3 separate regions of the Homo sapiens genome follow, and all the other regions are linked to region 3. The links come from fine-mapping of genetic effects on gene expression. A gene starts in region 3. Each other region holds a variant in brackets. All regions are shown on one strand. Distances are between the middles of the regions. Region 1 has its middle 6.7 kb from the start of SLC37A2. Region 2 overlaps LOC105369551 (a long non-coding RNA gene). Region 3 holds the start of STT3A (STT3 oligosaccharyltransferase complex catalytic subunit A).

Region 1 (2,764 bases), 540 kb before region 3:
GGCTCTCAGGCTAGTGTTACAGAGTTGTAGGGAAATTCTAGGATGAAGTTTTTGCTGGGACAAAGCAGATGAAAGAGTTGAGTTTTTCCAGATCTGGAGCTTACCTGTTGGGGATGCTGTAGACATCTAGAGGCAGCAGGGATATCTTCAGTCTTTATTGTGTAGTGCTGGTTTGTTTATTCAGACCTTCTTTAATCTTACTAATAAAACTCTTCACTTGAAGACCTTTCAGTCCTTGCCTGTGAAAGGCATGATTGTTCTTCTTGAAGTCACATGCTTTTGATTTCTAAACCCATTTCCATTTTCATTTGTTCAACCTGTTCTCCCTGTTTCATTCCTCTTGCTTCACGATGTTACAATAAGAATGCATTCCTAGTTGTAGACCTAAGGAGCAGTGTAAGGCAGGGAGGCATTCCCACAACTTCCTTGAGCCTATCTTAGGCTTAATTAAGCCTATCATAGGCTTAATTGGTCACAGGGACAGAGGTTAGTCCCAAATGATAAGAAGGAATCTGTTTCTACAAATGGAGTGGCCCTTGGGGAGAGCTTCTGTCTCATCTTTCCACCAGCATCACTGTGTGAACCAGGCATGTCTGTTCTCTGCAAGTTAAATTTGTTTGTCTGAGTAGTAGGGAGGAGTATTATCTCCTAGCCGTCTAGAGGTGCCGATGAAGCTGTTCGATAAAAGCAGAGTTACACGTTTAAAAAAATAGCTCAACATCGCTGATCACTAAAAAAATGCAAATCAAAACCACAATGAGATACCATCTCATGCCAGTCAGAATGGCTATTATTAAAATGTCAAAAAACAACAGATGCTGGCAAGATTGCAGAGAAAAAAAGAACGCTTTTGCACTGCTGATGGGAGTATAAATTAGTTCAACCATTGTGGAAGACAGTATGGCAATTCCTCAAAGACCTACAGACAGAAATACCATTTGACCCAGCAATCCCATTACTAGGTATATACCCAAAGGAATATAAATCATTCTATTATAAAGATACATGCACAGGTATGTTCATTGTAGCACTATTCACAATAGCAAAGGCATGAAATCAACCCAAATGCCCATCAATGATAGACTGGATAAAGAAAATTTGGTACATACGCACTATGGAATA[C/A]TATGCAGCCATAAAAAGGAACAAGATCATGTCCTTTGCAGGAACATGGATGGAGCTGGAGGCCATTATCCTCAGCAAACTAATGCAGGAACAGAAACCCAAACACTGCATGTTCTCACTTACAAGTGGGAGCTGAATGATGAGAACACAGGGACACATGGCAAGAACAACACACACTGGGGCCTGTCAGAGGCGGGGTGGGGGCTGGGGGTGGCACTGGCTGGGTGTGGAGGGAGAACACCAGGGGGAATAGCTGGGCTTAATCCTTAGGTGAGGGGATGATCTGTACAGCAAACCACCATGGCACACATTTACCTATGTAACAACCTTGCACATCCTTCACATGTACCCCTGAGCTTAAAAGTTGAAGAAAAAAAACGAGTATCGTAACTTGGAATCCAAGGCACAGTACTGAAATCTGTATTGCTAGTGAGGTACTTGAGTTAATATGGGCAGCTGACCATGCTGCTCCATAGCATATTCTCCAAAGGAAAGATTTCTACTTAAAAAGTAAATTTCTCCCATCCTGTTTCTGGAATTAGAAAACTGAGAACTACTAAAAGGAAATTAAAGTTGACAGAGCTTTTATATATATAAGACTTTTATAAACTAAGGATAGATTCACGGGGAGTTACAAAAACAGTTCAGAGGCGTCCTGGTACCTCTTACCTAGTTTTCCCCAGTGATTACATTTGACATAACCGTAGTACAGTATGTGTGTGTCTGCTATTTTATCACATGCATTGATTTGCGTAAACACCAATGCAAACAAAATACAGAACTATTCTGTCACCACAAAGACCTCCCTTGTGTTACCCCTATAAAGTTACACCCCTCTCAACCACCACCTTCCTTAACTCCAGTCCATCTCTAATCCCTTTTCCATTTTTATGATTTTGTCATGTTGAGATTGTTATATAAATGAAATCATACAGTATGTGACCTTTTGAGATTGATTTTTTTTCACTTGGCATAATGCCATTATGTCAATAGTTCATTTCTTTTTATTGTTGAGTAGTATTTCATGGTATGAATGTACCACAATTTGTTTAACTTTATTGAGGGGCATATTGGTTGTTTCCAGTTTTTTGTTATTATAGATAAAGCTGCTATGGACAATTCATGTACAGGTTTTTGTATGGATGGAAATTTTCAGTTATCTGGGATAAAAGCCCAGGAGCACAATAAGTGTATGGTAAGTGTATTTTAGTTTCTTAGGAAAGTGACAGCATGTATTTGGGTAATGTTTTTTATCTACTCTGCCAGGGGTGGCGGGGGGTGAAAGTCCAGGTTTCCTATTTGACCTCTGTTAACATCCCTGGTTCGGGGAGGCAGGGCAGGGCACCTCATTACTGCTTGAAAGGGTGGGAGTTCTGGCTCTCCACTAGGCCTCCATTGATATCGCCCTGTATGGGCTCCTTACTGCTCCCCATGTGACCTCCATGACACCTTGGTGGTTGGGGTGGGGCGCTCTTTACCATTGGAAGGTGGTGAAAGTCCTGCTTTCCCACTTGGAGTTCTCTGACACCAGCCAGGCGGTGGGCGGGGGGGCACCCCTCATTACAGCCAGGTGCAAGTGGAAGTCTAGGTTCCCCACTGGCCTTTGCTGATAAGGTGGGGTGGGGCTGCAGTGTTTTCTATG
Region 2 (2,764 bases), 110 kb after region 3:
AAAGGCCTGGACTTCACCTATGAGGAACAGGACGGGGCTTCAGGGATGTCCTTTATTCTTGGCAGCTCCAAAGGGGCTGGCTCTGTGGAAATCTTTCCTGAGCCTGGACAGTGGTGAAACACCCACTGGCGAGTGTGTAAAAGGAAGCTTCTGCCCACAGCCTGGGAGCAGCTCAGTCCAGACTCTCCAGCCTGCTCTCATCTGCACACTGAAGCAGCCTGTCTTAGCCTTTCCGGAGCACTTAGCTGCCTGGTTCCAGCCACCCTGCTGTGTCTTTCTTACCTCCCAGACTGAGATGGACAAGTTCCCGCTCATGCTCCTGCTGCTGGGGGTTTTTCCTCTTGTGTTCTTCCAAGGTGTGAGTGAGGGTTTGGGCTGGCTGGGGCAGGAGGTGAGAACAGGGGCGAAGATAGCTGGCGAGCAGGCTGAAGATGATCTGGCCAGCACGGGAGGAGGTCAACACCAAGATTCTGGGATGATCTGACCAACAAGAATTGGAGGTGTCTCTCTGCTGTCCCCACCTCAACTCCTACCAGGGCAAGAGGTCAGGCCTCTTCCCGAGGTTTCACTCACTTGGGAAAATCAAGGCTGGTGTGTGTTTCTCAACATGGGGCGTTGAGGCTGTCTGGCTGGGATTATGTGGCAGAGCCAATGATTGCTCAAGGCTTTCTATATAGAAGCAACCTAGGGACAGTGGTCTAGTAGGTAGAAGTCACTGAAGGGCTTATCCTAAACCAGTGTTTCCATAGCAAACATCCTGTACAATCTTTCCATGGCAAGTTTCACTTAGATATGTTTGGATATCAGATACCTCTTTAGCAGGGTGTGGTGGGAAACTTTGTGAGAATGCCTCTCTTCCTTGAAGCCAGCACAGTCTTTATGCCTCTTTCATTTCCCAAGAGATCATCAACCTCAGAGAAGTTGTATGTAGATGCTCTGACTGTGCTCTGCACAAAGGCACCACTGTCAAAGGGATACCTTTTCTTTTATTTTCAATAAAATTAAATCACTTTACCAAATCTCCAGCTCCTTAAGGAACTAATGGACAAAATCTGATGGGAACATTTCCACCTTCTAAGA[T/C]TATGCTGGGAGATGTTCTTAGGGTTATTCTTTGCCCTTGAACTCCTGGGCCCTAATAGTGGCCTAGCCCACCTTGGTCTCAGCCCATTCAGCCCTGGGCACAGCCTTCACGTTTATTTTCTACAGGTGATGCCACAATGTGCATGGTGTGCAAGCTTTTTAAGAGAGGCCAGTTTAATAGGCAAGGGCAACTGCACTGTGAACCATGGCTCTGGATGCAGAACCAGGGATTTCTTCATTTTTGCTGAGACAGGTAATGCTGTGAGCCAGTCTGAGAGAGCCTTGCTGGGTGGTGAATGCATTCGGGGACCAGACGTGGCATGGATGGGGAAGGTCTCCCCACTTTGAGGTAAAGTATTGTTTCTGGCACTAAATGTGAATGCCTGTCTTCCAGGTGGGTGGTTCTATAATCACACGGAATTGAACTGCTTAAATACATGTGCGCCTTCACATATGTATCTTATGACCTGAAGGTTTCAACCTTTTGCTGTAAAGATCAAGACTTCTGTAATAGAAATAAAGGACAATTAATGACCACGAAGACTGACTGACCATCACTTCCTTGGCAGTGGTGGTTTGCCCTTCACCTCTTTCTGTGCCAGTATCTCTGGTGTGCTCCCCCTCCCCACGTGCTCCTGCTGAGCCTGCAGGATCCTGGAGTGCCCTCCAAGTATCCCTCCTCACTTCTCTCCAGGCTACTGGCTCCATCCTTCTGACGCCAAATACTCTCAGTTCACCCTGTGATATTGTTGCGATGTTTGTCCCCTCTAAATCTCATGTTGAAATGTGATCCCCAATATTGGAGGTGAGGTCTGATGAAAGGTGTTTTGGTCATGGGAGCAGATTTCTCATGAATGGCTTGATGCCCTCCTCATGGGAATGAGTGAGTTCTCACTGTATTAGTTGACATGAGAGCTGTGGTTTAAAAGAGCCTGGCACCTCCTCTCCTCTCTCTTGCTTTGTTTCTTACCATGTGGCACCCCTGCTCCCCCTTTGCCTTCTGCCATGAATAAAAGCTTTCTGAGGCCTCACCAGAAGCCAAGCAGATGCTGCTTCCATGTTTGTGCAGCCAGTATAGCCATGAGCCAAAATAAACCTTTTTTCCTTATAAATTACCCCGTCTCAGGTATTCCTTTATAACAATGCCAAATGGATTAACCCTCGCTTCATTCTCGTCTTCATTCACATCTGCTCATCCCCAGCAGCCCTGTGTCGCTTGCATCTTCTCAGCCCTCACCATTCCTGCATTAATTTGACTGACTAACTGCCCAGTTTCCAGTACCAACAACTTAGCAGTGACTGTAGAGAGCACAGAAAGGTAATGGGCTCCATTTCATACACCAGGAGGCAGAGGGGTCAGGGGAAAACTCAGGAAAACATGTCCACTTGGCAGAGGGACAGAGAGGGCTTAACGTCCAGGAAGGTATCAAGGCCTGGGGCAGACCAGTGGGGTCATCAGCTTTAGATGCCACCTACACACCCAGAACCTACTGATAGCCTAAGTTATGAGATGGAAAGAAGTAACCAGTGAGTTGAGTGAGAACAGGGGTGGATGAATCATAGACACTAGCGACCACCCAAATACAAAGGCAGTGAAGGTCTCTCTCCAAAAGATTGTTGAGTGGTGGTCAGAGAAGTAGCAGGGGAGCCAGCATTCAGCGGCATCACTGTCTGCTTGGACAAC
Region 3 (2,764 bases):
TCCGCCCGCCTTGGCCTCCCAAAGTGCTGGGATTACAGGGGTGAGCCACCGCGCCCGACCAAAACTCGTATTTTGAAGAAGCATTTACTCCAAGTTCTGTAATTCCTTCAGGCTCAGCTTCAGTTTCCTTTTGTTAAAGTAAAATTACATCGAACACTTACTACTAAAAACAAAACCAAAAAAAAGCAGATCTATTGAATCATAACGTCCTGGGGCGAGCCTGGTCATGTGGATTTTGAAAAAAATGCATGTGATTCTGAAGCAGTGATTTAAATAATGACCTTTCAATAAGTGGTGGGTTCCGTTCATGGGAGAATAGGAAACTGCGTGAGTGGTAGAGGCAACAAGTTCGAAGAGCTGCGAGACGTTCCCACTCTCTCTGGTGTAGCCTTGGCTCACCGAGGCGCGCAGGGAGTGGAAGTGCCTGAGGATAAAGGTGTACACGTGCGAGTCTGAGATGATGGAATTGCTGCTCAAACTTCGTCCCCTTCTCTGCCCTCAGCAAACTTATTGGGGGTCGGGGAGCGCGTGGGGTGCGAGAGAAGAGAGGCAAGTTAGGATAGGGAGAGCGGCTCTCTGGCCGGTATTTTAACAAAGGGCTGAACTGACTAAGCATGGCCGGGCTGCCTCCCGGTCTCCCGAGGAAGCCCGCTTGCTGCTGGGGAGGGCTGTGCCTCCGCGGCGGTGGCTGTCTCAGCTGGCAGTAGAAATGCTTCCAGCTTAGCCCCGACAACCCCTTTAGGCCTAGGCACGCTCTTTCACAAAACCAGGGGCTGTGAACTCTGTCAAGGTTCCCAGGTCCATCGCAGTTACCAAGGCACAGTAAAAGCTCGAGTCAACTATCAGGCACATCCTGCAAAAGACGAACTGTCTGGACCAGTCCGCGTTTGAGTTTTAATTGAGAATAAATAGGTAGAAAATGCTTCCCTCCTCTCCTTTCACCTTGTATTAGGTAACAATTTCTACCTTAAAAAAGACGGGAGACGAGCGGCTCCGCATTCCGAGTTACTGGGACTTGGAGCAAGGGCCTATTTCAGCGTAGTTTCCGCTTCTTGTCACATGACGGGAGTCAGTGGGCCGCGCCTTCCCACTGCGACTCCCCGTGGGTCCGCAAACCGACACGTCACTCCTCGGCCCTCAACCAAACTGCTTGGGGCACGTTCTTTCCGCGCTCTTGACTCCTACGCGCCGGCCTATGACAGCTCGGCGGGAGCATACAGACCTGCCTCTAGACTGCTAAGTGATAGCTGTAATGACCAATTAAAAACTTGAATCGCGGCCCGGTTTACGCCTCCGGATTTGACAGACAGTTCCGAGACCCTATCGCTCTCCAGAAGCGTCCTATTGGCCTGGAGCCAGCCAACGGGGGAGCGGTCCGGGAGGCGGACCCGGCTCCTGCCAGGGTTGGGTGCGCCGCTGAACGGATGGCTGAGGGAGCCCCGCGGATCGTTTAGGAAAGCCGGCCAGGTGAGAAGGCCGTAGAACGTAACTTGAAAATCAGCGGCAGGTGCAGTCCATGGCGTTGATGGGGCTGAACGAAGTGCAGGAGGCAAAACTCTAAATGGGGGTGGAGAGCAGAGCTTAGGGCCTTGCAGAGGAGGGGGCGTGGGGCGTGGTGTGGGGGCTTCCTGGATGGAAGGATGCGAAGGTCTAGGGAGGGAGGGTAAGGTGGGTCTTGAGAACAGAGCGTGGGAAAGACTGGGTCCTGGGACTAGTTATGGAGGGGAAGGCGCGTAGGATGCTGGGGTGATGAGTGTCCCGCGCTGAGGGGTATCAGAGGTGGTCAGTTCTTTGAGGGTGGGAAGAAGAGGGAGGTGGGACCCGCTGGAACGACCGGAAGGGAGAAGAGAGTAAAAGATCGTGAGAGGGTGTGGAAACGTGTGTAGGAAAACGGGGCTGGGGAAATTGCAGTCTGGGAAACTAGAGGCAGGGTGGCAGGAGATGCCACAGCTTGCAGGGCACAGTTGAGGAGAGCAGGTTGGTAAGTGTTTTAAGAAAGGTGTCTTTGCTCTTATTTGCTTGGCGGTGTGCGAAAGTGACCAAAGAGCACGAGATGAAATCTCCCTTACGGCCCTGCCCTCAATGACTAGCTCGTTTACTCAAGTTTTCAAGTAGAGATCCTAGCAGTCTCATTTTGGTGTGTGGCTCGTATCAACGCAGTGGTGTTAAGTTTGTTCCTATTTCAGGCATTCCAGAAAACAGCTGCAAACCCTGAGAGATATGGCTGGATTGTTGACCTCCTGGAGTAGTTAGGCCTTTATTTTTAGTTGCAAAGTAAGCTTTCCCTTTGGGACTATACTTAAACACATTTCTAAACTGCTCTTCTGGGACAGTTAATTATGGAGAACATGCTTGACTTCTCAGTGTTGGGGCTAGCATTCTATATGCCTTCCACCTAGTCCAGTGTTGTTGTTGTTTTGTTTTTCTCCTTTATTCCAATAATAGTGGGAAAAAAGATTCATGGAGGAGGATAGACAAACGTTTGTTAAGGGATACACAAGTACAACTAGATAGGAATAAATTCTAGTGTTCTATAGGATAACTATTATTAGGAGTATAATTAACAACAAAAATACACAATTTGTTGTATATTTTCAGATAGCTAGAAGAGTGGATTTTGAATATTCCTAAGACAAAAAAAATAAGGTGATGAATCTACTAATTATTTCCCGACTTGATCATTACACATTATATACATGTACCAAAATGTCACACTGTACTCCATAAATATGTACAATTATGTGTCAGTCAAAAAGAATAAAAG

What was found. PIP is the estimated chance that this variant, and not a neighbour inherited with it, causes the effect.
Region 1: its variant is fine-mapped to the expression of STT3A in T cells (TOPMed, PIP 0.98).
Region 2: its variant is fine-mapped to the expression of STT3A in whole blood (INTERVAL, PIP 0.94).

The regions. Positions count from the first base shown.
Region 1 is chr11:125,055,174-125,057,937 of GRCh38, forward strand. No RefSeq gene overlaps it. Among named protein-coding and RNA genes, the nearest start is that of SLC37A2, 6.7 kb to the right of the region's middle. The variant C/A (reference allele first, on the strand shown) is at 1,123.
Region 2 is chr11:125,697,427-125,700,190 of GRCh38, forward strand. It overlaps LOC105369551 (a long non-coding RNA gene), which reads left to right. Exons shown (of 2, transcript XR_007062934.1): 2 at 1-2,192. Among named protein-coding and RNA genes, the nearest start is that of ACRV1, 18 kb to the left of the region's middle. The variant T/C (reference allele first, on the strand shown) is at 1,081.
Region 3 is chr11:125,591,452-125,594,215 of GRCh38, forward strand. STT3A (STT3 oligosaccharyltransferase complex catalytic subunit A) reads left to right here and starts at 1,401. Exons shown (of 18, transcript NM_152713.5): 1 at 1,401-1,467. It overlaps STT3A-AS1 (STT3A antisense RNA 1), which reads right to left and starts at 1,117. Exons shown (of 4, transcript NR_132372.1): 1 at 967-1,117. RefSeq lists enhancers at 386-555, 673-1,267.